Linked DNA regions of Homo sapiens. The protein of the gene in region 2 purifies or fractionates together with the protein of the main gene of each other region. This does not show direct contact. Each region holds a gene or a part of one and is shown on either strand. Other genes may lie near its edges.

Region 1 (4,010 bases), on a different chromosome or scaffold from region 2:
CTCAATTTGAGATTTGGGGACTTTAAGGGGACCAAGTGCCACAGAGTCAAAGAACAGAAGCCCTGAAGTCAGACAATTACAGGTTTCAATTGAGGGTCTCAAATTATATCCCCTCTCTGAGTCTGCTTCCTTGTTTGTAAAATGAGTACAATGTTTACCCTTGGCATTCTTCTGAAGTTTGAATGATAGAGTATAAAGTATCTAGTAAGCTGCAGACATTTTATTAAGGCTTCATTAATGTTAGTCCCTTCCCTCTAAAGTGTTCTCTGTCTAGCTCTGAAATCTCAGTGATTTTCAGAGTTGCTGATTTACAGTTATAGAAAGCTATACCTGCTGCCTTTATAGATGCAGAGAAAGGATCCTTAGGGAAGGTGTGGTTTATTTGAAAGTCCCTTATGATGCCTGTTGATATGTCCTGGAGAGACCGGGACAGTGCTGGTTGATACCACTTATCGCAGCAGCTTGCCCAGTACAGCATTTGTCTCAGGCAAATGTATCCTGGGGCTGGGTGCAGTGGCTCACACCTATAATCCCAGCATTTTGGGAGGCTGAGGCAGGCGGATTGCTTGAGTCCAGGAGTTAAAGACCAGCCTGGGCAACATGGTGAGACTCTGGCTATACAAAAAAAACTGAAAAATTAGCTGGGCGTGGTGGCATGCCTGTGGTCCCAGCTACTCAGGAGGTGAGACAGGAGGATTGCTTGAGCCCAGGCATTCAAGGCTGCAGTGAGCTGTGTTTGCGCCACTGCACTCCAGCCTGGGTAACAGAGCAAGACTCCATCTCAAAAAACTAAATAAAAACAAAAATGTATTCTTGCTTGGATAATAAATCGTAAGGACTGCTATATTTCAGAAAACAGAATGATTAGGGAGGCTCCCTGAATTTTCAGCTAGCTAAATGACTGAAGCCAGAACATTTCCATAAGTAGACTGGCAGATTAACTTAAGAACAGTAATTCACAGTATTTCTTTCTCCAGTCTCTTTTGCAAAACATTCCCATTCATTATTCCCACCATGACATGCAGTCATTCTGCCTCGAGATCTTTATACAAGTCCCTGTGGGTTCTAGACTCCCACAGGGAACCCCTCACTATTGGTTCACTACAAGGTTCTACACCTAGTCCTATTCAACATATTTGTCATTACCTGGATGAAGACATAGAGAACATGCTTCTCAGTTTTTAAAACTTTCAGGGATAGAAAGTTGAGAAAGCAAATGATGAAGCAAGATTCAGAATTACTTTGCAAACTGAAACAATGGACCCAAAGCAAATCACATAAAATGTAAGGATACACTTAAAGGCATACATTTAGATTTTTACAAATAGCTCAAGGACAGGATACTGGAAACACAGCTTGACAACAAATTCTGATGAAAACACCTGGAAGTTTCAGTAGAACACTAACACAAAAATAGCAGCTGCTAGAAATTCAAACATGCTGCTCAGCAATGGTTTGAAAAAGCAAATTTTAGGCAGGTCTGACAGAAGTGTGGTGCCGAGATGCTGAGAGGTAAAGGCCCCAGGGTAAGTGGGACCAAGCAGACCCCACCTCAGCTGCTCTGTCCACGTGGGAATCAAATTGCCCAGGAAGGGAGAGGCCAGGAGCCAGTTCAGCTGTGCCCAATGTGACGCATAACTCAAGAGCTGGGTGCATAAGCTCTGAGAAGAATAAGAAACATCCAAGGAGGCATGACCATTTCCTTCAATTATTTGAGAGGCTGCTACATGGCCAAGAGAGAGAACTTATTTTAGACTTGTTTGAGGGGCATAACCAGGGACTTACAAGGTTCAGTTCAGGAGTCAGCTATGAAGAGATCTTTTTTAATAATTACAGCTGGCCAAGGGATGGGCCATCACTGGGGCATTACACCAATGGCTGCAGCATTAGAGATGGTAGAAGACACAGGTTTCTAGAGGGCTGTGAGGTGCACCCATTCTCTGAATTGAGCCAGTAGTTCTCAAACCTACCATGGGCACTGCTGAACTGGATGACCCTAGATTTACTTCTTTTTTTCAATGATTCTATTAAAATACAGCTTGCAGTGCCAGTACCTTAAGACAGTTTTCTCCGTAATGGGGCTATGAGGGAAATGAGCACCAAAGCACATGACTTCAGGACATGAGTGTGGGGTACAGGGAAAAGAGACATGTTCTGAACCTGAATGAAGCTGGGGAACCTCTCACCTGAGTGCCTGCATTTGGCAGCCTGATATTTTCGGCAGCAGCAGTCACATCAATGAAGGCTCGCATGAGAATGTCCAAGTAGTTCAGTTTGGAATATTCCTGTTTGGAGACAGTGAATGCATTAGGGAAGTGAAAAGTGTCCTAGGCAAAGGCAAATTACTTCCATGGGACAGCCTCAAGCCAAGGTCATACCTCTAGAAATGTGCTGTTCCATAACCTCGAGCGCAAAATAAGAGACGCCTTGCTGTCCAGCCCCCGCAGCGGGCATCTGATGTTCACACAGTTCACGTTCACGCTACAGTTCTAGAGAGAAAAAGAAGAATGGTCATCAAAAGACATTGTTCTGAAGAAATCCTTCCCCTCATCCTCTCAAATATTCACAGCTCTTGAAAAATACTTACAAGAGTCTGGTATTTTCTTTCAGCAAATAAAGAAAATTTTCTGTTATCATCTATCTGTTTTTCAGTAATTTCCCGTTTCTTTCTTGAGTTGTGAGACTCCTGAAAAAAATTATATCCAAAATAGTTCCAATTTATGTAATTCTTTGTCATTACCATACAAGCCTCTTGAGCATATCCTCCCAAACAGTGCCAGATTCACATAATCAACAATATTTGCCTCTCTCCTGCCAAAGGCACAGAAGTAAGTGTAAAACCAGCAAGTATTATCACTCTAAATTCAAGTTTATTGATTTACTCATAGGACTAAGTAATTCATTCCCACTCTGACCTTAAAACTCAGAGAAAGAGAAATATGCTTTCTTTGTTCCTCTGTATCCCCACCAAACTGTGGGCATACTGAGATCAGAGATCAAATCTTATTCCTGTATCCCTAGCCTCCAGCTCTGTTCCTAAAACATGGTAGTCAGCACATCTTGAAGGAATAAGTGACACTGAAGAACAGAGAAAGAAGCAAAAAGACCCATTATATAGCTCATTCAGAGCAGAGCAATGAAAACTAAGCCATACAAGAACTTTTAAAATTGCATTTTCCTTATAGCAAAGATTAGTAATAACCGATTATCTTGATTTTTAACATTGATGAGTAGAAGATCATGCTATAAGCCACCAACTCTGATCACTGATCATACCCAGTCACCTTAGAATTTAAAATAAAAGAAATAAACATGCAAACCTTCATCAAACTGGAACACAAATGATAGGCCAGTTATCTAAGCATGGAGCAGTATAGAGAGAGGGGTTAACAGTACAGGCTTTGACATCAGGCAGAGCAGGGCTTGTATGTGGAATCTGTCTCTTAACGCCTGAGTGACTGAGAGAGTTACTTGCTCTCTGAATCTTAATGTCCTCATCTGTGAAATGGTGAGGATAATGAAACGCCCTCATAGGACCATCCAGAGAATGAAATGAGAAAATGAAAACAAAATGCTTAGCATAGTTCCTGAGACACAATGAGTACACAATAAATAATTACTATTTTAAAAATAAGCATAAAAAGCTTTCAAGGTTACTTGCTGAGATGCCATTATCTTTTCCAATGAGTTTGGTTCTACTTGGAGTGAACACTGGCTGGCCCCTGGATAACAGCAGCTACTATTACCCCAGGAGCATCCCCCAGTTCTCCTTATTATGTAACATACTGGGTCATGATGAAACATCAGAAAATACCATTTGCCTCAGCAAGCACTGAATGACTCTGCCTTATGTACTATAATGGTCATTAACCAGCAAAAATGCCTCAGCCTCCCTCAGTTACCCAACTAGAAAAGAGAAATTGTGACAACCAAAGAGAAAGTCAACCTGCCAGAATATGCCACTTTCCTAAGAACAGTAATGATTTTCCCCTAACAAGTTAGTTTCTCTA
Region 2 (3,800 bases):
AGTGGAGAAAGCTTTGGAGACTTTGGAGTCAGAACTCAAATGGCTCTAGGTCCCAAATCCAGACTCTCATTTTGATTCTCAGAACAATTCTGTGGAAAGAGAAGATACAATAGGCAATATCCCTTTTTACAGATAGGTAAACAGAAATAGCATCTCAAAACCTCATTTGCACTGGGTGAGGTGGCTCACGCCTGTAATCCCAGCACTTTGGGAGGCTGAGGCGGGTGGATCACTTGAGGTCAGGAGTTTGAGACCAGCCTGGCCAACATGGTGAAACCCCGTCTCTACCAAAAACACAAAAATTAGCCAGGCATGGTGGTGCATGCCTGTAATCCCAGCTACTTGGGAGACTGAGGCAGGAGAATTGCTTGAACCCGGGAGGTGGAGGTTGCAGTGAGCTGAGATCATGCCACTGCACTCCAGCCTGGGCAACAGAGTGAGACTCCGTCTCAAAAAAAAAAAAAAAAAATTCATTTGCCCAATGACAAATAGCTGGTATGTTGCAGAGCCAGAATTTGAATCCAGGTCTTTTTGCCTCCATGGCTAGTCCTTTTATCTCCATGGGATACAGTCTAAAATCCTTAGTTTGAGGTTCAAGACTATCACTAATAAGAGTCTTACTCATCTACTTCAGCCATATCTCTTTCCGTTCCCACAAACCTTAGCTCCCACATTTGGCAGGTCCTTGCCAAGGAGCACAGGTAAAGTGTCTCTTTCCTTTTAATGGCTCACCATGGAGCTGTAGCTAAATTTCTGTGCTCTTACCCCTTTATTCATGTAGTTCCTCCTATCAGGAATATCCTGCCCACTCTCTGCTTAACTATGACAAGAGGTCATCTGTCCAAAGAGAAAGAAGAGAGTTTGTGGATTTAGGAGAAAAGAAAAGACTCCAAATACTGCTATGGGCATTTATTTAAAAAGAGAAATGACCAAAGAGGTTAACAAGTATTTAGATGAAGCTGGGCAGTTGTAGTCTGTGGTGCTCTTGGTCTGCACAAATCTTCCTCTTCCTCCAGCAGTGCTGTATGGATGTTGTTGAATGTTGAGGTCTGTCTGCATTTTCTCATTTTCATGCCAAGTCAATCACTGGATCTGGCTGTCTTCCTTTCTGTCCTACCTATCTTTGCTTGTTTTCTCTCTCTTTCCTTTGCAGTGTTAAATAAAAATTTATTCCCCCAAAATTTGGTGTTCTCATTTTGTTTGACTTATTTTACTATGTTGATGAAGAGGGAGGAAAAGTTTTTCTGGGGTACAAAAACGCATATATTTATCCGATATTTGAGGACTATACTACCCACTTTGGTGAAAGCTGTTCTGTTTATTTACTGGAGCTTAGGAGGGAAGAAGGCAAGTTTGCCCTGATGGTGAGGAGCAAAGTCAAGGATTACACTGATTTGCCCCAGCTTATATTTCCACAGATTCTTGGTATATTTAGCATCTCTTCCCCTGTGCCCTGTTGCATTCTTCTCTGTGCCTATTGTAATGAGAAAGATACTAAGCCATAGTCAGACTCATCTTGCTGTAGCTGTTTTAAAAGTTTCTTTTGGCACAAGGCTTACAAAGCTGTGGAAAGAAAGTTTGTATTACTGCCTTATAACTTAGAATAGCAACAAAATACCTGATATAATGAAGTCTCACCTGTCCTGAGATGCGTGCGTGATAGGCCCTCATGACTGTAAAGGGATTGGAAAAGGAAAGTGGGAACTATTTTATGTATTGCATCTTATTACTAAATTAGGGTTGTAATCTTGAGCAAATCTGATTCTGGTGGGAGTGGGAAGGGGGCTAGCCTTTGATCGCTCCTTGCTGGAAGGAACAATCAAAGAAGCAATAGATGCCACTCAAAAAGTTGAAGGTAGGTTTTCCACGTATAGCTCTGAATTGTTGGCACAGTGGTAAGACAAGGATATTCACTGAAACTAGTTCATGAGCTGAGAGAGGCACAGAGGTCCAGGAAACTCCCTCCTCCTTTTCCCCACATGTAAGCATGATAACTTGACCTATGTGGTGTTTCTGGACCTGAAAAAGCATGTGTACTATTCTACTGAATACTACCTCTTTCAATAATTCTACTAAGCCTTGAGTTGGGGAAGAAGGATAAAGAAAAGAAAGCTTCTAAGTAGTGTATATTTTCTCGTTTAATCAAATATTGAGCTTTGGTTTTTTCCTTTGGTTAACTTTAAAGCTACTTGAATTGAATATAGGAGAAAACAAAAAATTGGATTCAAAAGCTCATTCTCTTCACCTGAGTGGAAAAGGAAAAAAAGGCCAGAGATGATTTTTTTTTTTTTTTTTTTGCTCTAGGATGACTTGGGAATCAAAGATAGTAACTAGTAGTAGGTTGTATGGCTAGACTCAATTTCCCCTTTATAATTTTTATTCTAAAATAAAATTTATTTTACTGGTTACAGTGGCCTAACCAAGGGAATTTAAAGTCAACAAAAAATTATGTCTAAAGGTCAGACTGTTTCATATTCATGTTTCCTCCTGAAAACTGGCATAGGCTTAAATTTGGAAGATCCTTACCAAGGATTACAGATAAGGTCTCTGTTTTCTTTTTGAAATCTCTGTTTTCTTTTGATGACTTGCAAATAAGGGACTGGAATAGGGAATGTTTAGGTGGTCCTGTTTCTGGAAAGGGGAGGAGTCAATCTCAGAATGAATGGGGTGGTGAAGGATGTAAGAGGTGCTTTGCATATAGTAGATCATTACTGAGTGTAAGGTTTTAGAGTGAGAAGGATCTGTATTAATTGCTGTGACGGGCAACAATTAACTCTTTTTTTTTTTTTTTTTCCTTTGAGAAAGTGTCTCACCCTGTCACCCAGGCTGGAGTACAGTGGCATGATCATGGCTCACTGCAACCTCAACCAGCCTGGGCTCAGGTGATCCTCATGCCTTAGCTTGGGACTACAGTTGTGTGCCACCATGCCTAATTTTTGTATTTTTTTGTATAGTTGGGGTTTTGCCATGTTGCCCAGACTGGCCTCAAACTCCTAGGCTCAAAGGATCTGCCTGCCTTGGCCTCCCAAAGTGCTGGGATTACAGGCGTGAGCCACCGCACCAGGCCCTATTTAACTTCCTTGTGTCTGTTTCCTGATGAGTAACCAGGGGATGTTTGCTTGCAAGGGTTGTATAAGGTTAGAATCATCATGTGTAAAGCATCTGATTCATCATACAGGTTTTTTAACAAATTTATTAAGAGCCTGCCATATGTGTGGGACTTTTCGTTGGGGTAAAGAAGACAAAGTCCTTACATATATATAGAGCTTACATTCTGATGCCATTCAAAACAGTGGTAGTTATTGATTTGAGGAATGCCTAAATAAAATGGAGTTAAGAATGCCAAGGCCAGGCAAAAACCTGAATCAGTTGCTTGTTATGCAAAAACGTTATGACAAATTATTGGAAGTTTCACTTTTTGTTATCTAATAGGGAAAACGCTAATCTATATTGGTAAATGGTTTTCAGAGGACTCAGCTACATGTGTTTAATATACTCAATCTGGCCATCAGCCTTTGCTGAGGAGCCGCATTGTTCAAAACCCATCTCCAAACCAAGTCTGTCTCTTGCCTTTTCTTCCTCTAATAGCTGAAAATCTGTTGCTTCAACTTGTAGCCCTCTGTTCATGCAGTGAGTAGAGGTAGTTGTACTAACTTGCCTCTCTCACAGGCCTTCATTCCTAATGAGTCTTACCTCCTACCCATTGAAAAGTCTGATTTATCTGTCTTCCTCCTTAGTGCCTTTGGATCAGTGAAACTGGTTTGAACTTTCCTGTGGATAGCCAGGGCTTGAGTAACATT
Region 3 (4,010 bases), on a different chromosome or scaffold from region 2:
CTTCTTGTGATTCCTGCAAGACAGTGAGAGTGTGAATGACCCCTGCTGTGGCCAATTTAAGAAGGAAAAATATTAAAGGTATGCAAAGGGTGAGGAAGAGCTGCTGTTCTATGTATAGTTCCATTAAATTTATTAAGAGGCTTTGTCTTTTTTTTTTTTTTTGGCTTTAGAGAGGCATTAAGAAGTAGGGCATGAAGGCACAAAAAGGGAACCTGAAATCCAATTGCAATAATTACTCATGCAATTGGCCTCTTTCTATGTGGCATTATAGAAACCTCCTGAGTAACACAGTTTATGGTTTTACAAAAGAGAACTCCTACATCATTGCATGGCATGGCTACCGCTTCCTTAGACCATTCAGAGAATGATCCCCAAGTATTTTTCATAAACCCCATAGGGTTTCCTACATTAAAATAAAGTGACAGAGATCACGCCTTGAATAATTTCACAATTCCAGCAATGAGTTGTACTACTTCCAAATGACGAATTTTCTGCTCCAAATAATGGGACAAAGGGCATCATCACATGGACACAGTCAATTTCACAGTGATGGACTCACACAGGTGGATGATCTGAGGCACAAGCTGTGATTGGTCTTAAGAAAATGAAAGGTAGAGTTGGGTTCAAAATCCACATCTCACGATTTCTGGTCCTTATTCATCCAAAAAGTTGAACTGCTTCATATCAGTGTATTAGACACATTTTAAATCTTTCTCAAGAGTTGCTCTGGGTGCAGCATGATAAGGAAAACCAGGTATTTGGCTTGATAGCAGATATTCAAGGTATAGGTGCCAAGCTTATGGTAAGCTTCTCACCGTAGGATATCTGAGATCTGTTGCCACAAAGAGGACTATGGTCCTATGATGACTACTATAGTTCAGTTTTCAACATTTTGGGAATAATTTGATCATAACCTTTCCTTCTCGTTACATTATAAGACAGGAATTTAGAGTATTCACTCAAGAGGTTCTCCCAGTAACAGGTGATGTCATCCATCTGCAAATGGTTCCTAATAAACTGGCTTCCCCTAGAGACAAGATTTAACAAGAAAATGTTAAAGCACAGAATTTAATGATAATAGCAGTCTGCATTTGAGTGCTCACCTTGTGCCAAGCATTATTCAGCATTTTATATAAATTAATTCATTTGAGCCTCAAGAACCAACCCTATGGCAATCATATCCACATACATGCATGTAGCAATACAACTTAACAATCTTTTTCCTTTATTTATTTATTTATTTATTTATTTTTTGAGACGGAGTTTCGCTCTTGTTGCTCATGCTGGAGCGCAATGGTGCGATCTTGGCTCACTGCAACCTCCGCCTCCCGGGTTCAAGTGATTCTCCTGCCTCAGCCTCCCGAGTAGCTGGGATTACAGGCACGCACCACCACACCCGGCTAATTTTTTTGTATTTCTAGTAGAGATGGGGTTTCACCATGGCTAGGCTGGTCTTGAACTTCTGACCTCAGGTGATCCGCCCACCTCGGCCTTCCAGAGTGCTGGGATTACAGGCGTTAGCCACCACGCCCGGCCCATCTTTTTCCTTTAAAACAAGCATATGTAGACATGTGTGTATGTTTTCCCCCAGGACAGGTTTAGTTCTGAATTATCTCCATATAATGAGGATAAAATACAGATGTCACCATGATAACAATATTCAGATAACTTTGGCTAGGGCATAATGGGGATGACAAAAAGTAAAGTGGAAAAGGGAAAATGAACAGAACTCACCTTTCAGCAATCTCTTGAGCTACATCATCATTTGCTTTTACAAATTGTAACAGCTCTCTAAAATGAAAAGAATTTTAGACTGTGAAATATAGACCAACTTCATTGGCACTAAGTCAGAAAGACGATATAGATTGAGGTCTATGGATAATTTTAGGTATGTGGATGGTGGATTATTTCCTTCAAGCAAAGATATCAGGGTTCTCTCAAGAACAAAATAATAACAAAAAAAAACCCCCACACACTGATTAAAGATACCCTATTGTAGATTTGGGACATATTTGAGAAAATACAGAAGTTACCTTATATATTTACATATATTTTGTATATTTATATTATATATTATATTAGATATTTATATTATTTTACATATTTATATATAAATATATTTATATATAGAAAAAAAATATATATACACAGATATCACCATGATAACAATATTCAGATAACTCTGGCCCTTCTCTATACTTCTTCCTAGCTCCTCCTGTCATGAAAGGAAATTTGCTGAAGCTTCACTTGAGTCAATTCTCATGCTGTATCTGAAAATCCTTTTGACAATATAATAAGATTGAATATCCCTATCTTTAGTCTTGGAGAGATTAGAGCTTTTTAACTTCATTTTGTCTGAACGTTTCATTTGAAACCAGTATTAAAGCGCTTTTTCAAATTAAATTCCACTTATAGCCTACTTGGATAATAATGCAATACTATATATGCAAACCAAGAGGAAAAAAAGCTTTCAATGGAAAAAAATCGTAGGACTAAATGTCTTACATGACTGGTTTTAAGGCATTAAGGCATTTTTAAAAGCAGATTGGAAGGGTCTTTAGAAACTCTGCATTGGGGGATAACTGCTTACTGGACATTGGAGAGATCTGTTTTGACTGGGATATAGTGAACCCATGGCTTCAGCTGTGGATAGAAGAATTCTAGCCACTCATCACCAACATGGAAAACAAGTGAGCCACACAGGAAGAGGTGTTTAAACCGGAAACTTGCAGCTACGCCTCGAAAATTAAACAGATACCTGGGGAAAAAAGAACAAAATACATTTGATACTATATGCCTGCTGCCACAAATATGACCTTTTATGCTTATTCTCCCCTCCCCTTCTTTCCTTTTATGATTCCTCTCCATTCTCTTTCCACTTTGAGTTTTCAAGGACACATTAATATGTTCCTAAGTGGTTTCTATCAGCCACTTTACCAGGGCTAGGACTACAGGTTGTTCTGGGAATGGCAGGGTGAGGAAAAATAGGGGATATTTTCTCCAGACAGCACTAGATAGGGTCAGGAGCTGGGTGCCGGGTAGAGTGTATACAGGGCTCAGAAGGAAATGACAGCTTGTAGATTTGGAACATATCTGAGAAAATAAATGTTCAATGGTAAACATAAAATAAAACGAGTGAAAAAAATTTCACAAGCTTTTCTAGGCCTAATGTCTCTAACTAGTCATGGCCTCCCAAAGCCTTGTTTTTCCTCTAGTGTACCCCATCTGGTCGAAGGTCTCCACTGCTTCCTGGACATCACCCTCTTCTCTTAAAGTATAGAGCAGCGGTCCCCAACCTCTTTGGCACCAGGGACCAGTTTCATGGGAGACAATTTTTCCATGGATGGGTAGTGTGGGGGAGATGGTTTTGGATGAAACTGTTCCACCTCAGATCATCAGGCATTAGTTAGATTCTCATAAGGAGCACGCAACCTTGATCCCTTGCATACACAGTTCACAATACAGTTTGTGCTCCTATGAGAATCTAATGCCAAGGCTGATCTGACAGAAGGCAGAGCTCAGGCGGTAATGCTCGCTTCCCCACTGCTCACCTCCTGCCATGCAGCCTGGTTCCTAATAGACCAGTACCATGGCAGGGGGTTGGGGACCCCTGGTGTAGAGAGGAGAATGAGGAAAACCTAATCAATTTTCAGAGATTGCCCACAGGGGAAAAAAAAAAAACAAAAAAAGCTGTCTTCTTCTCAGCATTTCTTATGCACGCACCTGTCGCCAACCAGAGTTGCTTTCACCATATAGCTCCTACTCTGCGTGTCATTAGCACTCCTAACTCTGAGCCACCCCCACCACCACTGCCCTCCTCTAGACCTGGTTTTACCTGTTCATCTAATTCTTAGTCCCAGAATTTTATTTTATTTCTCTTAGAGACAGGGTCTCACTATGTAGCCCAGGCTGGTCTTGAACTCTTGGGCTCAAAGGATCCTCCTACCTCAGCCTCCCGAGTAGCTAAGACTACAGGAGCATGCCAGCACACCAGGATAATAATTCTAATA
Region 4 (3,566 bases), on a different chromosome or scaffold from region 2:
TTAAAGATCACCTGTGCCTGTGGAATGCTGATGCCACTTTCAGCGAGGCTCCCGCCTGTAATCCCAGCACTTTGGGAGGCTGAGGCAGGCGGATCATGAGGTCAGGAGATTGAGACCAGCCTGGCCAACATGGTGAAACCCCATCTCTACTAAAAATACAAAAATTAGCTGGGCGTGGTGGTGTGCGCCTGTATTCCCAGCTACTCGGGAGGCTGAGGCAGGAGAATCGCTTGAACCCGGGAGGCGGAGGTTGCAGGGAGCCGAGATCTTGCCATTGCACTCCAGCCTGGCAACAGAGCGAGACTCCGTCTAAAAAAAAAAAAAAAAAAAAAAGGAATGTGTCCACCATGGAAGATGATGAAGTAACTGGGCTGCTTCCCATCCCAGCTGCCCAGGCCCACTTGGGTTGTGGTGGGCTTTAGGCCCTTTGGCAACTTCTTCTTGGAGTAGCTCTGGCTCTGGCACCTGGTTTCCCCTAGAAACTTCCACCAGACCCCTTCCTAATCTGGAGGAGGGCACGGTCCACCGTCGCCTCCCGCAGCCCTCCCCAGGGCACAGACTGAAACCCCTGCGGGGTGAAAATGTTTTTATTATAACTTTGGTCAGACGGGGCACAGCCGGGCGGGGGCTCTGAGGGTGCTGGGAAGCTATCCAGCCCCCAACTCCCCCCTCCCCCGGGCGCGCCACCCCGGAGGGAGCGGAGGGCAGCTCATCTCAGAGCGCAGGAAGCAAACCCGCCGCCGCGACCTCTCCCCAGGCTGGGGTGGGCTGGCAGGCGGAGGTGGGCAGTAAACAGTCCTATTGTACAAATATATAGCGCGGGCTGGGCGGGGGCGGTCAACCCCGGTTCCCTGGCACGGGGACAGGGCGCGCTGGGCCCGGCTCTGCAGCGAGCCGGTGGGAGGGCCTAGCTGTGGCCCAGGCGGTGTTGAGCACGGGCCGGGGGCGTCATAGCCGGGGAGGGCCGGGCAGCGAGCGGGTGGGCGAGGGGCGAGTCATCGTCTGCCCCGCCCGGAGGGGACCCCGGCGGGTGAGGGACGTGGGTGGAGGGAGACGTGGGGAGCTCAGTCGGAGTAGATGATGAAGCCAGAGAACGTGCTGTATTTGTTGCTGTTGCCGCCGTGTGCTTTGCCTCCATCCAGCTTGATGAAGACCTCGTCGCCGGCGTCCAGGTGCAGGATCACGCTGTTGCTGGCGTAGTCGTAGTTCTGGTCCGCGTCCTGGGCAATAGCACTGGCCCGCACCTGCGGGTGGGGGACACGGGAGGGAGGGCGAGAGGAGAGAGAGGATGAGAAGGGAGGGAGGTGAGGCAGTCCCGTGGGGGAGGATCAGCAGACCCAGAAACCTGGCCTCCAGCCTCGCCTCATCCCTGCCACGCTCCCCCTCCCCCGCCCCCTTCCAATCATACAGGACTTGTTTCAGGAAAGGGGCAGAGAGGATCCCTGGATTTCTAGGGCAGGTCTGATCTGGGCCTGAATTGGGAGTCAAGGCAGAGTCTTCCTCCTTAACTCTTATAGGGCTTTCCCTCCAGCTGGCTGAGAACCTCAATACCTCCAGGAAGCCTGGAAGCCTGTCCTTGCAAAGAGGAATTCTCTGGACCTCCAGGGAATGGAGGGCCTTCCCTACTCTCATCATTCCTTCCTCTCTGCTTTCATAATGATGCCATCGTTTCAGCCACACCCGCTGGATCTTATGTCAGTGGATGGACACAAGGGCACACCTTGGCCCCACAGGTCAGGCAGCTGGACCAATGCCAGGCTGCCAGTCAGCAACCACCCTGGAACCAGGGCCAGGTCTTTGGTCTGAAGTGCATTCCAGAGTCTCTCCTGCTGCAGCAGTGAGACAGAAGGCCTGGTAATGCTTTCCCCTCCCAGAGTTTAGAAGGGGCCTGGGTGCCAGCCTCCATGGAGCTGTAGCTATGTACCTGTCACTACCCACCCAAAGAGGATTGTAGCTCCTCCTGTCTCACCTCAGGGTGGTAGAAAGGAACTGGGTGGGAAGAAGGGAATCCAGGCCTTACTTCCCTCTGGGATTCTCAGTCTGATGTGACATCCTTGCTGGTCCCTGCCTTGATGGGGGATGGGGAGGGACAGGCAGGATAATGGGTCAAGGGAGCACCAGCATTTGGGCTTGGAGCCTGCCGTCACTTTTGGGGGCTCTGACTATAATCATAAGAGATTGTGTGGTGGCTGCATACGGTGGCTCATGCCTGTGATCCCAGCACTTTGGGAGGCCCAGGCAGGTGGATCATTTGAGGTCAGGAGTTCGAGAACAGCCTGGCCAATATGGTGAGACCCCCATCTCTACTAAAAATACAAAAATTAGCTAGGCATAGTGGCACGCCTGTAATCCCAGCTCCTGGGGAGGCTGAGGCAGGAGAATCACTTGAACCTGGGAAATGGAGGCTGCAGTGAGCCGAGATCATGCCACTGCGCTCCAGCCTGGGCGACATAGTGAGACTCAGTCTCAAAAAAAAAAAAAGGCCAGGCGCGGTGGCTCACGCCTGTAATCCCAGCACTTTGGGAGGCCGAGGCGGGTGGATCATGAGGTCAGGAGATCGAGACCATCCTGGCTAACAAGGTGAAACCCCGTCTCTACTAAAAATACAAAAAATTAGCCGGGCGCGGTGGCGGGCGCCTGTAGTCCCAGCTACTGGGGAGGCTGAGGCAGGAGAATGGCGTGAACCCGGGAAGCGGAGCTTGCAGTGAGCCGAGATTGCGCCACTGCAGTCCGCAGTCCGGCCTGGGCGACAGAGCGAGACTCCGTCTCAAAAAAAAAAAAAAAAAAAGAGAGAGAGAGAGAGAGAGAGAGATTGTGTGGTGGTGAACGAATGATCTACAGACATTCAGCTAACAGGTATGGAAACATAAGTCCTGAGTTTGAGGATCGGGGCCTCTCCAGGGTATCCTGGGTAGAGACATGGAAGAGAAGCGCCCTCTCCAGGACTGTGGCTTGTGGTGTGGGGAGGCTGCACTGAGTGGAGTTCTCTCAGCCAGGTTTCTCCACGGCCCCTCTCTATCCTGTCCCTTCACTGAAGGCAGCTTACCATCCCAACTCCCAGGGCTGAAGTCTGGGTAGAACCAAGCCAAATTAGGGGAGGGGCCCATCCTCTCTCCTGGGCTGGAGGCAGCACTGCAGGTCAGCTGTGCCAGAGCTGCTGACTCAGCCGCGATGCTGCAATGAAGAGGACCCGACATATTTGCATGAGGGCCTCCCTTTAAAGCCCTTCTCCAGCCCCTTCTTTTCCCTCAACCTCTTCTTCCCAACCTGAGAAGAAACTCTTTGTGTGCTTAGCTGGGAAAACTGGTCTAGTTAAAGGTGGGAGGGAATAAATGAAGGGGGAGATGCTGTCTGCCAAGGAGCTCAGTTTCTCTGTCTAGAAAATGGATGAGAAGACTTTGCCTCACCACTGCCACCTCTGTAAAAGTCTTTTGATGATAAAGAAAAAAAAACATTAGATCTTGATGGGGCTTTGAGTTATTAGGGAAGAGCTGAAAGCAAACAGCCAACTTCTGTATTGTTCCCTGAGCCCTAATCCTGGTAATATTTATTATTACACATGCATT
Region 5 (4,633 bases), on a different chromosome or scaffold from region 2:
ACAAAGCATCATCCCTCTGCTGACAGAGGCTGAGGAGGAGGCTGGGGCACTAGCACCTATACTCTGAGGCACTGGAGGGCTCAGTCAGCCCTTACTTGGTGGGCCAGGCACAGCAACCTCAATGGGGAGCAGAGAATTATGGGTAGAGGAAACTGACGACAGCTTGAAAGAGGCAAGGCAGAGTTGGACTGCATAAGTATTGGGGACTGAGTAGAAAACCTTGGCCCAAAAGCTGCCTGTATGGAGAGGGTAGCAGGGAGGGGGATTCTAGGACAGCAGAGAATGGCTGATGGCCGTCCAGCACTGGCCACACCCACCAGTCAGCCCTTGTCACAGTAGCCCTGTCTGCTAACAGCATGTGTGGAAGCTGCCTTTCCACTGTGTCCTCATGTGCAGAGGGCTTGGGCCTTCCCAAGAGGAGGACGTATGTTCACCCCCTGAAAAGCCAGAGGGAGTCCTGTCCACAGCTGGGGCTCTCCGCCAGGGCCAGGACTAGGGTGAGGGGAATGAGGCCAGTGAGGTGTTTTTTTTTTTTTTTCCTCGGGGTGCAAAATTTTAGGGGGTGCCAAAAAAACTCAGTAACGGAGATAAGTAATATTTAACACAATAGTTTTTAAAATAAAAATTAATGCAAAACTATCTGTAATGAACAAAATATCCAAATATCAAATAAAGACAGGATCCGTGTTGCTGATTTTTCAGTTAGCCTCAGGCTCCAATATGGCTCGGCATACCACTATTACTGACTCTATTTAAAATCTGGATATTTCCTTTATCACAGGTTTTTTTTTTTTTTTTTTTTTTTTGCATTAATTTTGACTTAAAAAAATACATCTCAATATTACTCATCTCAACTACTGTGTTTTTTGGTAGCCCCTGAAATTCTGCACCCAGGCCAGTGCCTGACTGGTCTCTCTTGCCCCAGCCTTGCAGACTCCCCTGAGGAAGTCCGGACTCCTGCCTGGAGCACACGCTCCCCTCTAACCTCCTGCGCACTCAAGCCAACCTCACACATGCCCAGTAATGGGCAGCCTGCCACACCTCCAGGGGCATCCCTTAAGGCCTTTCTGGCCCTGAAGACTCAGGTTTCTGATGCTCCTTGCCTCACCCTGTGAGCTGGCATAGAACATCTCTAAGGGGGGAAGGAGATGCCCTCATTGAAATGAGGGAGAAGGTGGATGAGGGGCTCCTTCCTTTTGTCCTCAGATGACCCAAGCCAAGTGCAGAAGGCGAGCCTCCTCCCAAAGCTCGGCTAGTCCCTCCACCAAAGCCAGGATCAGAGCCCACACCTGCCTGGCCAACCCCTGGCACTGATGATGCCTGGGTGCGGGTTAAGCTGGGAGGTGAGATGCCAGGGGGGTGCTGTTGGCTGGGTCGGGGGAAGTCGGGAGGGGGCGCTGCTCCGTGCTTAGCAGCTCCGGGGAGGCCTCCAGGAAGTTCTAAGGAGGGGCCCGGGGGGCCCGGAGCAGTTTCCAGTGGCCAGGGGTACGCGCGGCCGGAGGGGCGCCGGGGCCGTACTCACCGCGGCCGTTCTGGTTGGGCCGGTACACGCTGCCCACGCTGAGGCGGCCCTGCTGCGCGCCGTTCCGCTCCCCACCCGGCGGGGGCGTGTCGGAGCTGCGCACCGGCAGGTAGGGCGGCTCCAGCGCGCGCGGCGGCCCGTACGCCTCGGGCGGCGGGTTGGCGTAGGGCGGGTACCAGCCCAGGCGTGGGTCTCCGCCATGGGCCTGCGCCGCCTCGGGACCGGGGTCAGGGTAGGCCTGCTCGAAGCCGGGGGTGCCCTCGCTGTACAGACTGTGCGAGTAGCGGCGGTCCAGGCCGTCGGGGGGCGGCGGCGGCGGCGGCACGTAGGGCCTCTCGGGGGCCGGGTAGAAGCCCTGAGGCGGGTACTCGGGCAGCTCTTCGCCGCCGCCGTACTCCTCGTAGCGCGCCCGGGGCTGGTAGGGGTAGATGACCCCCGCCGAGGCCACGGCCGCCGCCCCCGCGCCCACGCCGCCGCCCGCGGGCCGGTAGTACACGAAACCCTGGTCGTAGGTCCGCGACGCGGGGTCGTAGTTCTCGTACTGGCTGACGAAGGGCGCCTGCGGGTAGGGGAACTGCTGCGGGTAGGAGGGCTGCTGGCGGTAGGTGCTGGCGAAGGCCGAAGCCGAGACCGAGGAGGCGGAGCCCCCGTGCCGTTGCTGGGAGACGGAGGTGCGGGCCCGGGCCATGCCCGTGCTGTCCCCGACGGCCACCTCGCGCCAGTTGTCGGGCACCTGGCCAAAGCCGAATGGGTGCCGCGCCTGGCCGCGCACGGTGTCCGAGCCCACGCGCCCCGGCAGGGGCAGGGACGGCGCCTGCCGACGCCGGGGGCTCCCGTGGCTGCGCCGCTGCTGGGCCTGGGGCGCGCCGGCCAGCAGCACCCGGGAGCTACTCTCGGAGCGCTGAGGTCCGGCCGGCACGTACTCTGAGCCCGAGTTGAGCAAGCTGTACACCTGCCCGTTGTTCTCCCACTGGATCAGCTGCCGCCAGCGGGCGGGGTCCGAGCCCTGCCCGGGCTGCGCCTGCTGCCCGTGCACCAGCACGCACAGGCAGGCGCCCCACACCAGGGCCCCCAGCTGCCGGCTGCCTCGGGCCAGAGCCATGGTGACCCCTCTGCAGAGGCCTGGTGGACAGAGAGGCTCTCAGGAGTGGCCCCCTGGGCGTGCTTCTCTTCCCACGGCCTCGAGGACAGGAAGGCTCCTTGCTTGCCCCAGCTCTAGCTTTGTCCATGCTGGCCTTGTCCCGAGCGGGACGGCTCCTCCGATGACAGCATTTCAAGGCCAAGGGGTCAGGGCAGGGCAGGGGCGGTGCCCAGGGCTGCACGAGGCTCTCCGCAGGGCACCGGGCGGGCAGGACCGCCTGTGGGCCTTACATGGCCAGCCCCGCACTGGCTGGCCGCTCGGCTGGCGCTTTCCCACTCTGAATGAATAAGCAACAGGCTGGGAGCGTCGGGAGGCTTCGGCCTCCTGGTCCGCCTGCTGGGGCCTCCTCCGCGGGGCCCTATGGCCCGCCGGCTTTTAGCTATGCGCCGGTCCCACAGCTGCAGTGCTCCCTCAGTCCCTGGAGTTCCCAGCCAAGCCACAGACCTGCCTCTGAGGAAGGGAATCGAGCAGGGAGTAGGAGGGGACCTCTGGGGACTCGGGCCTGGTAAGTGGGGCTCTGGCAGGCAGAACGGGGCTGGGGTGTCAGCACCACCCCGCCCATTCCTCTCTGCTTTGGTCACAGCATCCCTGGTCTCCACCTTGCTCACTGGCTTCTCGTTTGGGCTGGAATGGGCCTCTGACTCCTGTCTGCCCCAGCCTCCTTCCCGTACTCCCGGGTTCTCCCTTTTCCTTGTTCCCTAAAGCCAGTGCTAATTAAGACACACCCTCTTTGCATGTTCCTTCCACCATTATCCCACACCCTCAATAGGAAGAAAAAAAAAAAAAAGACACACCCTCTTTGTTGGTGGGCCTCCTCGGGGAGATGCTGAACAGGGACCACTCTCTAATTCCAGGTCCCAGGTGCACCGCAGCTCTTGGGCCTGCGAAGAGAGGCACTGGAGCTGCACCTTTTCCCTCGTGGCACACCTCAGGGGCTTACTTTCCCAGTCTGAAGAGTGGGGTGTATCCCTGAGCTGAAAAGCACTTGTGAGATCCTGGGAGAGATCAACTTCCCAGACATCACGTATGGTTTCTGTCCTACATCTCTTGGCTCTGCATAGCCTGGGAATAACTTGAGTGTACACATGGATAAAATGAAACTGGGGGCTGTCTTTGATATGGGACAGGGGTCACTGTGAGGCAGAGAAGCCAGTAAGCATTGAACAACAGAAGGGGGTTCCGGAGACCTGGCCTGGTCCTGTTGCTGTGTGGCTTAGTCCCTTACTCTATCTGATCCAGGTGCCACGGCTTACCAATGGAAGATTAGGCCAGATGGCTCCTGAGAGTGCTTTGGGAGATTCTCTGTTCCTTCTGGGAATGGCAGGGATAGGAGGGGGTCCCAGAAGTTTGAACGCTTTGGCATCCAAGAAATCACACTCCAAATACTGCTCTTCTGGCCTCCCCTGGGCTGCCTTCTCCAACCGTGTTCCTGGGAACCGAAGGGCAGAAATTGCCCTCTTGGGCTTATAAACAAGGTATGAAGGACCTGTCCTTAATTTGGCTCCTGTATATTCTTTATTTTGGAAATGCCTGGAGCCCACCTAGAGAGGAGGCAACTAGAGTGGACATTCTTTGGGAACTATAGACCTCCCAACCCCATCCTTGCCAGGCAGCATTTGTTCACCCATTGCACTGTTCTTCAGGACTGAGGCTTGGACTCCAGCATGTCTCTACCCTTTAAATGCCCAGAATCCAGCCCAGAGGTAGGGGGCTTCCAATACCTCCTGGCCAGCAACTTGTCAACGCTGACACCTCAGCTCCCCAGCATGGGGTTTCCATCTCAGACTCCAGACAAGATTCCTCCAAAGAGCCACTGGTGTGACTGACACCAAGCAAGATGCTGAGGCAGGGCTTACTGAGGGCCGGGACCTGGAGGGTTAAGCCTTCCCTCCCTCCTGCTTGCCCCCTGCAGTGTTGGCCTCAGCTGCTTGGAATCCCTGGGGTCCTGTAGGGCCCTCCCGCCAGCCAGA
Region 6 (4,010 bases), about 16 Mb from region 2:
AAAAAACACAGTTGTAGAAAATTGGTTGGAAGTAAAACAGGGAGAGGAACTGAGTTCCACAGTGCACATGTTAAGTTTGAAATGTTAAAACAGAGATGTCAAAGAGACTATTGGATATGTGACTCTGGAGACTCAGAAGAGAAGTCTGGACTGAAAACATAAATTTGAGAGTCATCAGGACATATAGATATGAACTGTGCATGAAATTATAGATGAGTCACCTAGGCAGAAAGAAAATAAAAAAAGTTTACAGTTCCAAACCTTGAGAGTTGGGTAAAAAAAGAGCCCACAAAGATTACTGTGAAGCAGCAGCCAATAAAAAAAGGAAACTAAAAAACCATAGTAACACAAAAGGAAAGTCTTTCAAGGAGCAAATGACCCACACAGCCAAATGCTGAGGAAAGGGCAAGTAAGATGGCAGAAAGCACTGGCCCCTTAACAGAAATAACTCTGGCAGAGTGGAAGGCTAACTTCAAGTTAAAAGTTAGAGATAGCTATTTATGCCACACACGAGAGAAAAGAAACAATAGCAGAGGATATATAGAACATTCTTCCCTGCAACTTGCACCAGGAATATTCTCAATGTCCTCTCTTGTGGCTGTAAGGGTTAAGTAGGTTTAAGTTGTTTGGAATAAAACAGACATGTTGGTGCACAGGTAATGAATGCAAACACAAAAGGATCAGCCTAAAATGAAGCATTGAGTGAGAAGGAAAAAAAGTATCTGTCTTGTGTTTGATAAATCTGAATGCCTCTAAGAGGAGGCTGCTTAACACCTCTTCTTATAAATCTATGACATACGCATTATTTTAAAAATCATGCCTGCATACTTAGAAAAATACAAACACTGTAGTCCATGAGAAAAGTCCAAAACTGCTTTTGAAAATATATTTGTGATCTGAACTCTAGTAATGATTTCTGCACATCTGTGCTAACTGGCTTTGTTCTATCAGCCAAAAATATTCTTTGGAAAAAAAAAAAAAAAGTCTGATAGGAGAAATACCAGGACAAGGATTGGGTGGAGTTAAAGGAGAGAGAAAATCAGCCAACATACAATCTGGAGACAATTAGACCAACATTAGCCCAGGAACAGTCAGAGTTCGAGTCTGCTTGCAAACATTTTATGCCAAGAGAAAAAAATTCAACAAATAAATCATTAAAGTAAATAAAGTAAAGGACAGTGCTAGGGAGCTAGAGTTAATGAGAATTCTTGGAGTAAAGATCAGTTCTGGGTGACATCTTATATAGGGTGACCATCCTTTCTCATTTATCCAAGACAGCAGTACTGGTATTCTGATGTAATTATTACTAGCACTACCTTTCCTTCTTAAGAGTGTCCCAGTTTGATAGAACATTATATGGTCATACTATTTATATGCCACACATTTCTATGACTGAAAAAATATAAGCAGTTAATTACTAAATGATAGGCTAATACAATATTATAAACTATGGGATTAGAATCTACTCATTTTTTATTTGAACCATGTCTCATAGCTCTCCTTAGAAAAAGAAACATAAAGTAAGCTGCATTAAAAAAAATGTATAGGTATCACGGCTGAAAATAGATAAAACATCTAAAATTCAGTTCAGAACACAGAACAAAGTAATATTAGGTGCTTTCAAATGTTTCACAAACATTTTTTGGTATCTTTTATTCAGTATTTATACTGATAAAATCAAGAACATCAAATTAATGGACTGACATTTATTTAAATCTCTCAAGTTGCTGAAAAATATTTCAAAGGACTTGCATGGAATCAAGAATCCATAATCTTTCCTGGGTTGTTTTTTGGTTTTTTTTTTTCCCCAAGACCAGTAACCCAGATTATTCACTCAATGGTGACTTTGGAGAAGGGAGGGAAAAAATAGCTTGCATCCCATGTACTACTCTGAAAGCTGATAAATTTCAGCCAGAAAGTCATTCAGACTTTTAGTTTGAACTAGTATGATCAGACTACTATGCTTTCTGGGAGCCACCATGTTATCTTATGCTAATGTGGAAGGCTTCTACTTGCTGCAGTTAGTGCAGAATAAATAATATTCTTGTAAAGCTTACCTGAACTGTAATTTCAAGCATTCAATCCATAACTTGTTCTATTCTTTAGCAAGACGCTATCTCAACTCTCGTAAATCCAAAGGCTATTAGATTTAAATTTAATTTTTGATGGATCTTATGTGGACACTAACAGAATTCAAAATTATAGAACACGTAGGGCAAACCTGCACAAATTACTTATGAAAATTAAATATACTATTAAACTCTACCAATATTCAGGGGCACCGTTAAGAGATCATCAAGGTGAATATTTTAAGAAGTATGATGAATTTTGGCATGTAAAAAAGCAGGAAATGCTATGTTTTCCAACATTATGACATCTATCATTGCTATGTTGCGTTGCAGCTACTGCCATAAAATCCTTTGGGTCCTCCACTGACTTGGCATACTGTACTCCACAAAAATAACAGTTTTTTCAGGAAGGCTAAGTGGAGACAAGCCTGCAGGATTGTGGTGATCATCTTTCAACAGTATGGATGTAACACAGTAAAAATCAGGAAGAAAGATTGCCCTCAACCTACAAATCCTTAAAGAGATAAAAGTAAACAAATCTGTAATAATTTTCAAGCATTATACTGTGCAATAGTTACCATACTGTGACCTCCCTTTGCCTTGTTAGTCAAGGACCTGGCTCCATTTGGCTCTAATACAAATTCTAAATAACACAGGGAAATGTTTATCAAAAAGTATACAACTATAAAAATGTCCACTATACCTTCTTCTAGTTAACATAATATAGAAATTGCATTTTTATACAATTAAAGCCTTTTGCTATTGACAAGCAATATGGAAATTTATCAAGTCATTATTAAATTGCAACAAGGGAGGGATTCAACAAAGATCACAATAAATGAGTATAAATGATTTTACCTAATGACTGCAAATAGGTTCAATCATGTTATTCCACCATATCATATCCATCCACAGGTGAGACAGTAACAAATATTAGATGTATTATATGTATAAACACATGATAGATAAAATAATTATTAAAGACATTATATATAATATGTATATATTTCAATATGTATATTAATGCACACAAACTGAGATTTTAAGATTACATCTCTATAGGAATTTTAAAACTACAAAAGGTTTCAAAGTAAATTTAATTTTACAATATTAAAAGTAAAATGTATTAATGGTTTCAGTAATTTATGTGTTCTACTACTCAAAATATACACGAACAATTTAGATGCAATGTTATACTACAGATAATTCTCTTGTTTCAGCTTCATTAAATCACTTAGGCCAAAAGATAGATGCATGCCATCTTACCTGTAGCTGTTTTTCTGGATAATACCATCTGATGTGTCCTGTGCCTCTTTAGCAGAAAATCCTAGAAGGTGCCTCCTTTGATTTGCAGGGCTCACACTAGGGTTCATTCTCCTGGAATCCTGTTCCAACATGCTGAAAATAAAAAACAGGAAATAATAGCTGAAATAAAAATATGTCACACATATGCCTGCTACATGCAGCTGTGAAACAAACCACAATTCCTTTGCAGATCCATGCACGTAACAAAAATGCTAGGCATAGACGCAAGTACAAATAGGGTACTGAAGGTGTTCAAATCCTTAGCATGGTAACCTGCACATATCAAAAACAATTTTTCTAAGTATAAAAGTACCTTATTTATAAACTGTTTAAACAATAGTAGTGTTCTATATGTTTTAAAAACTTGATAATTACATGTATATATGAAGTAGAAATAAATACGACACACCTAAAAACAAATTTTAAACTCCAATAATAACTGAAATAAGAAGGCCTCCTGGATGGTGCAAACTGGTGTTTTCAATGAGAGAATACTTCAAATGAAGTAGGAATAAAAGTCAAATTCATTGTTAGCCTTTCACAATTCCAGAAGGCAGGCTATCAGATAAAGCTAAGAAAAAAAAATTTTTTAAATACTTCTATTTGTATTTATATGTAAAAACTTCTATTCTTTCT
Region 7 (4,010 bases), on a different chromosome or scaffold from region 2:
AAAAATACGCCAGGCATCGTGGCGTGCACCTGTAGTCCCAGCTACTCAGGAGGCTGAGACAGGAGAATTGCTTGAAGCCAGGAGGCGGTGGTTGCAGTGAGCCACTATCACACCACTGCACTCCAGCCTGGGCAACAGAGCGAGACTCCATCTCATAAAAAAAAAAAAAAAAAAGAAGCCTTGAAACCTCAATTATAAGAGATCATTCAGAACAGATTATTTATTTACCTTATAATCAGCTGGAAATGTCATTTTTCATTGTTCTATACAATGCGAACTGTGAGAATTCCTGGTAGATTTACATATCAGAAAAGTACAGATTTCTTATCTAATTTTTTGTTACAAATACTATGTCCACAACAAAAGCTGTGAAATTAAAATGCACTTTTCACCCTAGGCTATACTAATTCACTGATACAAAAAATGTGACCACTGTCTACAACTCAAATTGAAATGTAATTCAATCTTCAAACACAGAGGTTTCATTACATTATTTTAATGTATATTCTCTCTTCTCTTTTGCCTGCACAGTCACCTGGCTGAATGCAAATAAGGGATAGCTACTTTTTTTTTTTTTGAGACTGAGTCTCGCTCTGTCACCCAGGCTAGAGTGCAGTAGCGCAATCTCCACTCACTGCAAGCTCTGCCTCCCGGGTTCACGCCATTCTCCTGCCTCAGCCTCCCGAGTAGCTGGGACCACAGGTGCCCGCCAACATGCCCGGCTAATTTTTTTGGATTTTTAGTAGAGACGGGGTTTCACCGTGTTAGCCAGAATGGTCCCAATCTCCTGACCTCGTGATCCACCCACCTCAGCCTCCCAAAGTGCTGGGATTACAGGCGTGAGCCACTGCGCCCTGCCAGGGATAGCTACTTTTTTACATATTTGTTTGGACGGTATGGCTTCAGAACGACGTAAAACACTGGAAATCAGGTTTGGGTTTTTAAGCCTGGGAAAGTTTTCCCTTTCTCCAAATTGTATTATCCTGGTCAAATTTTTTCAAAATTGCATGTGTCATACGTAAACTTACGTGACAACTGGAACTGAGCAGGCAGAAAAGACACTGAAATCCACGGAGCTGCAGTCGGGATCACAGCAGCAGTTGATGTCACACTGTGCTGGGGATAAGTCACAGACACAGAGAACAGCAACTGCAGAAAAAAGAGGGGTAGGATCCAGAACATCACCATCAGCAGGTGGTGACTGCCCCCTGCCACCACAGTGTACCATAAGTCAATTTCATAAAAAAGATCCATTTTATTTTTCCTATTGCACTTTGGGGGAAATTTGTGAAGTGGAAATGAGTCAGTTTGAGCATCCCACAATCAGAGGTTTCCCCAAAGTGGCTAATGATCTGACTCGCTTGGAAAGTTCTGTTAGTGCTTTGCCTACAGAGATGCTGATTTCGTAAGCTGAATATGAAACCCAGGCATTTGCAGTTTTCAGAAACTTTCCAGGTGATGCTTATAATTAGACAAGTTTAAGAACAAGCACCCCTAAACCATTTGCCTGACCATAAGAACCACCAGTTTAAAACTCCAAAGTCCTTAAGCCCCTCCTCTAGAGATTACGATTCAGAGGAAGGGCCCACTTAAACCTTCAGGAAAGAGACTTTTCAATCTTGCCCCCTCTTCACGTATAACCTGCTGCTTTAAAGCTGAACTCATATTCACAGACCCTTGGCCAAGAATCATACCGGCTCAGGTGCTCAGAATGTCTTTGGTGATTTAGACAATAAGGTATGAGGGCGGGGTAGGAATCTCCCCCACCTCACAACTTTTAATTATTTTATTTATTTATTTATTTTTTAAAGGAGTTTCGGCTCTTGTTGCCCAGGCTGGAGTGCAATGGTGCAATCTTGGCTCACTGCAACCTCCACCTCCTGGGTTCAAGCTATTCTCCTGCCTCAGCCTCCTGAGTAGCTGGGATTAAAGGCATGCACTACCACGCCCAACTTTTTTTTTTTTTTTGTATTTTTATTAGGGACGGGGTTTCACCATGTTGGCCAGGCTGGTCTCAAACTCCTGACCTCAAGTGATCTGCCAGCCTTAGCCACCCAAAGTGCTGGGATTACAGGTGTGAGCCACCACTCCTGGTCAACTTTTAATCATTAATAAGGATGATTTTTCTTTGCCGCTTTGCAACAAAGATGATTATCTGGATTTTTAATTCTCTATCTTATTCTGTCAAATAAGGACAAGAAAACCCTTTTAAAAAATAGAGAATGAATTTATAGTTGCAATTATTGCTGGAAGGGAAGAAGTAAGATCAACCTTCAATCTTATCTGTAACGTTTTCTTTTTCAAAAGAAGATTTCAAACCAGGCACGGTGGCTCACATCTGTAATTCCTGCACTTTGGGAGGCGGGCAGATCACTTGAGGTCAGGAGTTTGAGACTGCCCTGGCCAACATGGTTAAACCCTGTCTCTATTAAAAATACAAAAATTAGGCTGGGCGCGGTGGTTCATGCCTGTAATCCCAGCACTTTGGGAGGCCAAGGCAGGCGGATCACAAGGTCAGGAGATTGAGACCATCCTGGCTAACACGGTGAAACCCCGTCTCTACTAACAATATAAAAACTAGCTGGGTGTGGTGGCGGGCACCTGTAGTCCCAGCTACTGGGGAGGCTGAGGCGGGAGAATGGCGTGAACCCAGGAGGCGGGGTTTGCAGTGAGCCGAGATCGCGTCACTGCATTCCAGCCTGGGCGACAGAGCGAGACTCCATCTCAAAAAAAAAATTCAAAAATTAGCCAGGTATGGTGGTGGGCGCCTGTAATCCCAGCTACTCAGGGAGGCTGAGGCAGGAGAATCGTTTCAACCCAGAAGGCAGAGGTTGCAGTAAACTGAGATCACACCACTGCACTCCAGCCTGGATGACAGAGTGAGACTCCATCTCAAAAAAAAAAAAAAAAAGATCTCAAGCCAAAAAACAAAATTAACAAAAAAGGAATCTGAAGCAAATGCTGCTAGTGTCCACCCAACATTCTTATTTGTACGTATGAATTATTTCACGATAAAAAGGAGCTTTAGAAAAATGTACCCCACAGCGGCCGGATGCAGTGGCTCAAGCCTGTAATCCCAGCACTTTGGGAGGCTGAGGCAGGTGGATCACGAGGTCAGGAGGTCCAGACCAGCCTGGCCGACATGGTAAAACCCCGTCTCTACTGAAAATACAAAAATTAGTCGGGCATGGTGGCACACACCCGTAGTCCCAGCTACTCAGGAGGCTGAGGCAGAAGAATAGCCTGAACCCAGGAGGCAGAGTTTGCAGTGAGCCGATATCGTGCCACTGCACTCCAGCCTGGGTGACAGGGCAAGATTCCATCTCAAAAAAAAAAAAAGAAAGAAAAAGAGAAAAGAAAAATGTATCCCATAGCTCACGCCTGTATCCTAGCACTCTGGAAGGCTGAGAAGAGTGGATCCCCTGAGGTTAGGAGTTTGAGACCAGCCTGGCCAACGTGGTAAAACCCCATCTCTACTAAAAATACCAAAAAAATTAGCCAGGCATGGTGGCGCGCGGCTGTAATCCCAGCTACTTGGGAGGCTGAGGCAGGAGAATCGCTTGAACCTGGGAGGTGGAGGTTGCAGTGAGCTGAGACTGCGCCACTGCATTCCAGCCTGGGCAATTAAAAAAAAAAAAATAGTACCCCGTAAAAGGTATAATGCACTCTGCAAAAAAAATGTGTGAGGTGAAGGGGAAGGTTTTGTTAATATGCCATGATTTCTTAGTCTAAGACACAAAAGCTTTCCCCCTAAAGTTTACAGTGCTTCTCTCTAGTTGAGAACTCTTCTATGTGCCTAGTAAAATGACACAACTTATGCACGCTAATGTAAAAAATTAAAAGTGCTTTAGGTTCCCTGTATGTTTAAAATTACTATCTTGCTTTGTTTTCAAAACTTAAAGCCCTTATAGGCAGCTGTAAGACTACTAAGGACGAAGCAATAGTGTTTAATAACTCCACTTAGGAAAAAGGTTTCTACCCAGGATGCGAGTGTACTTAATCATCCACCA

What was found.
Region 1: the proteins of CD160 (region 2) and ITGA6 purify together in Homo sapiens (affinity purification with mass spectrometry; one large-scale study listed by BioGRID and IntAct). This does not show direct contact.
Region 3: the proteins of CD160 (region 2) and POGLUT1 purify together in Homo sapiens (affinity purification with mass spectrometry; one large-scale study listed by BioGRID and IntAct). This does not show direct contact.
Region 4: the proteins of CD160 (region 2) and C1QL1 purify together in Homo sapiens (affinity purification with mass spectrometry; one large-scale study listed by BioGRID and IntAct). This does not show direct contact.
Region 5: the proteins of CD160 (region 2) and LOXL1 purify together in Homo sapiens (affinity purification with mass spectrometry; one large-scale study listed by BioGRID and IntAct). This does not show direct contact.
Region 6: the proteins of CD160 (region 2) and ATF6 purify together in Homo sapiens (affinity purification with mass spectrometry; one large-scale study listed by BioGRID and IntAct). This does not show direct contact.
Region 7: the proteins of CD160 (region 2) and TCTN1 purify together in Homo sapiens (affinity purification with mass spectrometry; one large-scale study listed by BioGRID and IntAct). This does not show direct contact.

The regions. Positions count from the first base shown.
Region 1 is NC_000002.12:172,489,700-172,493,709, reverse strand, and holds part of ITGA6 (integrin alpha-6 isoform b preproprotein), read right to left. Parts: intron 2,687-4,010; coding exon 2,588-2,686; exon of another isoform or gene 2,490-2,587; coding exon 2,379-2,489; exon of another isoform or gene 2,286-2,378; coding exon 2,187-2,285; exon of another isoform or gene 1-2,186. UniProt on the Homo sapiens protein: Integrin alpha-6/beta-1 (ITGA6:ITGB1) is a receptor for laminin on platelets. Integrin alpha-6/beta-1 (ITGA6:ITGB1) is present in oocytes and is involved in sperm-egg fusion.
Region 2 is NC_000001.11:145,736,249-145,740,048, reverse strand, and holds the end of CD160 (CD160 antigen precursor), read right to left. Parts: coding exon of another isoform or gene 3,748-3,800; exon of another isoform or gene 1,564-3,747; coding exon 1,556-1,563; 3' UTR 761-1,555; downstream 1-760.
Region 3 is NC_000003.12:119,489,299-119,493,308, reverse strand, and holds part of POGLUT1 (protein O-glucosyltransferase 1 precursor), read right to left. Parts: intron 2,759-4,010; coding exon 2,591-2,758; intron 1,792-2,590; coding exon 1,735-1,791; intron 1,028-1,734; coding exon 871-1,027; 3' UTR 1-870. UniProt on the Homo sapiens protein: Dual specificity glycosyltransferase that catalyzes the transfer of glucose and xylose from UDP-glucose and UDP-xylose, respectively, to a serine residue found in the consensus sequence of C-X-S-X-P-C.
Region 4 is NC_000017.11:44,959,124-44,962,689, forward strand, and holds the end of C1QL1 (C1q-related factor precursor), read right to left. Parts: intron 1,245-3,566; coding exon 1,065-1,244; 3' UTR 570-1,064; downstream 1-569. UniProt on the Homo sapiens protein: May regulate the number of excitatory synapses that are formed on hippocampus neurons. Has no effect on inhibitory synapses.
Region 5 is NC_000015.10:73,924,775-73,929,407, reverse strand, and holds the start of LOXL1 (lysyl oxidase homolog 1 preproprotein), read right to left. Parts: upstream 2,947-4,633; 5' UTR 2,625-2,946; coding exon 1,523-2,624; exon of another isoform or gene 1,448-1,522; intron 1,344-1,447; exon of another isoform or gene 1,160-1,343; intron 1-1,159. UniProt on the Homo sapiens protein: Catalyzes the oxidative deamination of lysine and hydroxylysine residues in collagen and elastin, resulting in the formation of covalent cross-linkages, and the stabilization of collagen and elastin fibers.
Region 6 is NC_000001.11:161,845,906-161,849,915, reverse strand, and holds part of ATF6 (cyclic AMP-dependent transcription factor ATF-6 alpha), read right to left. Parts: intron 3,468-4,010; coding exon 3,336-3,467; intron 1-3,335.
Region 7 is NC_000012.12:110,616,975-110,620,984, reverse strand, and holds part of TCTN1 (tectonic-1 isoform 1 precursor), read right to left. Parts: intron 1,150-4,010; coding exon 1,029-1,149; intron 1-1,028. UniProt on the Homo sapiens protein: Component of the tectonic-like complex, a complex localized at the transition zone of primary cilia and acting as a barrier that prevents diffusion of transmembrane proteins between the cilia and plasma membranes.